Linked DNA regions of Homo sapiens: region 2 is linked to region 1. Evidence: fine-mapped expression QTL. A gene starts in region 1. The other region holds a variant in brackets. All regions are shown on one strand. Distances are from middle to middle. Region 1 holds the start of RIMS2 (regulating synaptic membrane exocytosis 2). Region 2 overlaps RIMS2 (regulating synaptic membrane exocytosis 2).

What was found. PIP is the estimated chance that this variant, and not a neighbour inherited with it, causes the effect.
Region 2: its variant is the best candidate, but not a certain one, in a credible set for the expression of RIMS2 in iPS cells (iPSCORE, PIP 0.56).

What each region holds. Positions count from the first base shown.
Region 1 is chr8:103,499,294-103,502,200 of GRCh38, reverse strand. It overlaps RIMS2 (regulating synaptic membrane exocytosis 2), which reads right to left and starts at 1,591. Exons shown (of 30, transcript NM_001348484.3): 1 at 1,139-1,591. The coding sequence starts at 1,314. It overlaps LOC105375690 (a long non-coding RNA gene), which reads left to right and starts at 291. Exons shown (of 5, transcript NR_145698.1): 1 at 291-405. RefSeq lists a silencer at 186-480.
Region 2 is chr8:103,827,656-103,830,562 of GRCh38, reverse strand. All of the region lies in intron 6 of RIMS2 (regulating synaptic membrane exocytosis 2), which reads right to left. Among named protein-coding and RNA genes, the nearest start is that of RIMS2, 330 kb to the right of the region's middle. The variant AC/C (reference allele first, on the strand shown) is at 1,476.

The sequences.
Region 1 (2,907 bases):
GGAACTCTACACTTTCAATTGTATATTTCTGTGGAGAATATGGGAAACGTATACTTGACAAAACGCAAAAGAATCATCTGAATAACTCATTTCAAGTAAAAAGAAAAAAGCCAAGCTGGAAAAACATAAAAAGGTTACACATCTTCTGAATAACCTCTTTCACAAAGTAACTGAGAAATCAAATAACCATAAAACATTCAAAAGCAAACCTTGTAGAAACAAATCTCTTTGCTACGCTAACCAGAAAAGTAGTCTCAGAGCTAAAGATAACCCTGTCTGGACAGTTCCCTGGTGCTGAAGTTCCAGAGCCGGTAAACGCATGCCTGGGTGCTGCTTTCACTCCTACCACCCTCAGAAAAACCCGGCCTGCCAAGACCGTGAGCAAGAATAGTAGAACTTCACAAGGTAGGGAGCATCCCAAACTGCAGTGATGGTAGGAACTGGAGTCTCTTCAGGATTAAACAGATTTACTAGTTGCAAACAGGAAGAGCAGCAGAGTGCAGGGTGTTAGCACTCGCCGAGGGGGAGGGGCTGGAAGATGGCGGCGGACGCACACCCACCCGACCGCGACAGAGCTTAGGCCCCTAGCCCGCGCCGCCGCCCGCTGCTCGCAGCCACTGTGGGCAGCCCTGCTCTGTCCCGCGTTGCTGGTAGAGCCGCCCCGCGGAGGCGTGGGACCAGGGTGGCGTCCGCATCCCCTGCCAGCGCGCCTTCGCCCGGGTCCGTCCAGGGAGCACCTGTGCACGGCCATATTGGATTCTGTGCCCCAGTCACTGCCTCAGCGCGGCGGGAAAGGAGAGGGTACGCACAGAGCCTGGGTTCAGCCCCAGTCCCGCTGGGGCCCCGGAGCCAAGATGACCAGCGAGGAAATCCGGAAAGGCGCCAAGGAAAATCACACCGCCTAAGGCTCGCCACCCTCACCTCAGCCGGCCTTGGCGCCCTCCCTCCCCGACACACACCCCTGCTCTCAGACACCCCTAAAACAGCCCGGGCGGCCGGCGCTGGCCGCAGCCCTCGTGGCCTGGGCGCCGCCAGCGGGAGGGAGGGCGGCGAACTGGGGCGCGCAGGCGGCCGCAGGGCAGTGGGCGAGGGGGCGGAGGGCAGGGAGAGAGGCGGGAATATGGAGCCAGGTCCTTACTTGAGCACGGACTGCTCCTTCTCCTCTTCTTTCTTCTGCCTATCCATGACGGCCAGGATGATTTTCCTCTCCTCCTCCGTGAGGTGGCTGAGGTCAGGCATCTCGGGCTGCAGAGGCGGCTGAGAGGCCGCCGGGATGGGAGCCAGGCGGCCCCGGGGCCCGACAGGAGCCGACATGTTTGGTGGAGCCGAACCACCCTAGGGAAGCGGGGAGGCAACTCCACTGGCAGCGGCGGCACCGGCGCGGCGGCTGGGGCAGCCTCCAGCGCTGGGACAAATACATACAAATCAATGGCCTTCAATCCAAGGCGACAGCCCCCCTCCCCCAAGAAAAGCAGGGGGAGGGGAGGGCGAGCGCGTGGGGAAGGAGGGCTGAGGAGTGCGCTTCGGGAAATGTTTCTTCTTCCCGGGGGCGAAGGGCTGTGAAGTGAGCGGTTCAAGGGAAAGGGGAACTGGAGGCCGGGACGCGGAGTGCGCGGAGAGGCGGGGGAGGGTGGTGGAGTAAGGTGGCGGGGACAGCTAAGGGTGGGGTGACTGGAGGGAGCAGGCGGGAGGGCGACAGGCGGACCGGGGCGCGAGTGTGTCCGGCCGCGGTCAGGGCCGGGAGCGCGCGCGCCGCCTCGGAGGGGAAGGGGTGCCTGCGAACAAGCCCCCGGGGAACTCGCTTCGAGCGCCCGGAGGCGGAGTACTGCCGGCCCGAGGGGCACCCAGGCGGGAGCCGAGAGGGTCGTGAGGAAGCGAGGACGGTTTCCCGGAGAAGCAACTCATCCGTCCCGCCGGCTGACGCATCACAGGGCTCCCGCGCGCCACAGAGGGAGAACTCCTCCAGGCACACCCGGGAGCGGGCCGCGGGGCCGGAAACCCCCGCGGAGACCCCAACCCCACCCACCCCACCCCCGGCTAGAGTGGAGAAGCGAAAGCGGAGAAGATATGACGGGGGCTAGCGGCGGAGAGTCCCGGGGCCAGGGCCCTTCGGCTGCCAACGCCCGGATCCAGGCGAGCTCCGACGTGCAGCGGGGTCTGGCGCCGGCCCCTCCTCATCACGCGCCCGGCCCAGGGTCGCTCAGCCGCCGCCACCGCCGCCGCCCCTTGGGTCGATGGAGTCGGCGCGGAAGGCCCGCGCGCCCTGCGCCGCCGCCGCTCAGTGCCGCCGCCAGCACCTCCTCCGCCCCTCCGCCTCCCGGGCTCATCCCGCGGGGGCGGCGTCACCTCCTCGCTGCCCAGGCCCGGGCACCGCGGGCGCCCCGCGGGCGGCAGCCGCCCCTCCCGAGCGCGATCTCCAGGCTGGGTCCGGGGCCGGGCGGGGAGGGAGGAGAGACTGAGCGTGAAGGGAGAGGGCGCCCGAGTTTTCGGGGACGGAAGTGTGGAGAATAGGAGCGTGTGAGGGGGCGCCCGAGGTGTCGGGGGCGGGGGAAGAGTATGAGCAGGGGTGGGGGCAGGGGTGCCAGGTGTAGCAGGTAGGGAGGTAGAGGCGGCGAGTGGGGGCGCCCGAGGGACCGGGGCGGGGCGGGGAGCGTAAGGGTGGCAAGGCGCCCGAGAGTCAGGGCTGGAGCTGAAGGTGGGTGACAGGGAGGGGGCGCCCAGGTGTCAGGACCTGAGGAGAAAGAGTGCGCGTAGCGGGAGGGCCCCGAAGTGTCGGGGCGGGATCCTGGAAGGAGGGAGAACGTGAGGAGGGAGGAAGGGTCCCTGGGGTGTCAGGGATGGGGGCCAGGAAAGGGGCAGAGAGCTGGAGGCCCACAAGTGGGGATAGCGGGGGAGGGAGGTTGGAGC
Region 2 (2,907 bases), 330 kb before region 1:
CAAATACATGTGGAATGTTCAAGATAGTCCTCACAGTGGGCAGTAGAACAAATCCTAATAAATTTAAACTGATTGAGATTATACAGGTATGTTCTCTCACTAGAATAAAATGTCATCATAAAAAATAATAAGATATTTCTCTCACCAGAATAAAATGTCATCATAAAAAATAATAAGATATTTTATTTTTAAATTAAATGTTTAGAAATGACCACACTTTAAAATAATCAATGAATCAGAAGAAATCATACAGTTCCACCTTCCAAAGCTTTAAAAAGAAGAGGAAATTAAATCCATAATAAGTAGAAGAAAAGGAGTAATTAAGACAGGAACAGTAATCATTGAAATGGTAGACAAACGAGAGAAAAGTAACAAAATCAAAAGAAAAAGATGATACACTCCTAGGTAAACTAATAGGCAAATGAGAGAAAGATCACACATCACAAAATAACAATATCAGAATAAAATAAGAGTCATCACTATTAGATCCATAGATATTAACAAGATAATAAAGAAATATGAAATTTATAACAACAAATTAGTCAACTTAAATAAAAATATTAAATTTACTGAAAAACATAACTGACCATATTGAGAAAGATTGAACATAAAACCTCATCAATCCTATTTATCTTAAAGAAATTGAATTCTTCTTAAAATTTGTATTATTTTTCATCATCATAGTGTTATTATCTTTCTCTTTCCAATTTTTATTTTAGGTTTGGGGGTACATGTGCAGGTTTGTTACATGAGTAAACTTGGGGATCTGGCATGTAGACTATTTCATCACCCATGTAATGAGCATAGTACCTGATAGGTAGTTTTTCCATGCTCACTCTCCTCCTACCCTCCATCCTCAAGTAGGCCCCAGTGTCTAATCTTCCCTTCTTTGTGTCCATGTGTATTCAAGCTTAGCTCCCACTTGTAAGTGAGAACATGCAGTATTTGGTTTTGTGTTCCTGCATCAAATTGGTTAGGATAATGGCCTCCAACTCGATCTATGTTGCTGCAAAGGAGATAATGTCATACTTTCTATGGCTGTATATTTCATGATGTATGTGTATATTTTCTTCATCCAGTCCATTATTGATGGACATCTACGTTGATTCTATGCTTTTTCTATTGCGAATAGTGCTGCAATTAACATATGCATGCAGGTGCCTTTATGGTAGAACAATTATATTCCTTTGGGTATATACCCAGTAATGGGATTGCTGGGTTGAGAAATCTCCAAACTGCTTTCCACAGTGGCTCAACAAATTTATGTTCCCAACAACAGTGTATAAACATTCTCTTTTCTTCACAACCTTGCCAGCATCTGCTATTGTTGACTTTTTAATAATAGCCATTCTGACTGGTGTGAGATGGTATCTCATTCTGGTTTTGCTTTGCATTTCTCTAATGATTAGAGCTATTGAACATTTTTTAAACTACCAACAGTATTTTGCACCAAATTAGCAAAAAAAAAAAAAAAA[AC/C]CTATTATTAAATTCACATAGAACCAAAAAAGAGCCCAAATAGCCAAAGCAATCCTTAGCAAAAAGAACAAAGCTAGAGGCACCATCACAGTATCCAACTTTGAACTATACTACAAGACTACAGTAAACCAAACAACATGGTACTGGTACAAAAATAGATATAAAGTCCAACAGAACAGATTACAGAACCCAGAAGTAAAGCCACACAACTACAACCATCTGATCTTCAACAAAGTTGACAAAGAAAGCAATGGGGAAAGGGGACTCCTTATTCAATAAATAATGCTGATATAACTGGCTAGCCATATGCAGAAGATTGAATCTGGACCCCTTCCTTTCACCACCTACAAAAATCAACTTAAGATGGATTAAAGACGTAAATGTAAAACCCAAGACTATAAAAAAAAAATAGGAAATACCATTCTAGACTAGGACCTGACAAAGGTTTCATGACATAAAGGCTCCAAAAGCAATTGCAACAAAACCAAAAATTGACAAGTGGGACCTAATTAAACTAAAGAGCCACTGCACAGCAAAAGAAATTATCAACAGACACCTACAGAATGGGAGAAAATATTTATAAACTATGTATTTGACAAAGGTCTAATATCCAGAATCTATAAGGAACTTAAACAAATTAACAAGCAAAAACCCAAAACCCCATTAAAACATAGGCAAAGCACATAAGCAGACACATCTCAAAAGAAGACATACATGTAGCCAAAGAAATTGAATACTTTATCAAGATTTTCACACAGAGAAAACTTTAAGTCCGGATGGTTCTGCTGGTGAATTCTATCAAATATTTAAGGGATAAATAACACCAATCTTGATACCAACTGTTCATCCAATAGAGAAAAAGTAAATGCCAAACTCATTTCATGAGGTCAGAATAACCCTAATGCCCAAACCTGTCATAGACATTTCAACTTAAGAAAACTAAAATCTCTCATGAACATAGATGCAAAAAAAACCTTATCAAAATCACAGAAAATCTACACCAGCAATATATAAAATTGTAAGTATCCCATGAGGTGGTATTTAACCCAGAAATGCAAAGTTGGTTTAATATTCAAAAGCTAAACTAATAAAATTAGCATTATTATGGAATCAGGAATAAGAATTACAAAATAATTTCAATTACTGAAGAAAAAGCACTTCACAAAATGCACACCTTTTTTTTTTTGAGATGGAGTGTCTTCTATCTGGTTAGTTATCTACCGTTGCACCTTCTTTTTTTTATTTTTTGAGATAAAGTCTCGCTCTTGTCACCCAGGCTGGTGGAGTACAGTGGCACGATCTCAGCTCACTGCAACCTCTGCCTCCCGGGTTCAAGCGATTCTCCTGCCTCAACCTCTTGAGTAGCAGGGATTACAGACACACACGGCCACGCCCAGCTAATTCTTGTATTTTTAGTAGAAACAGAGTTTC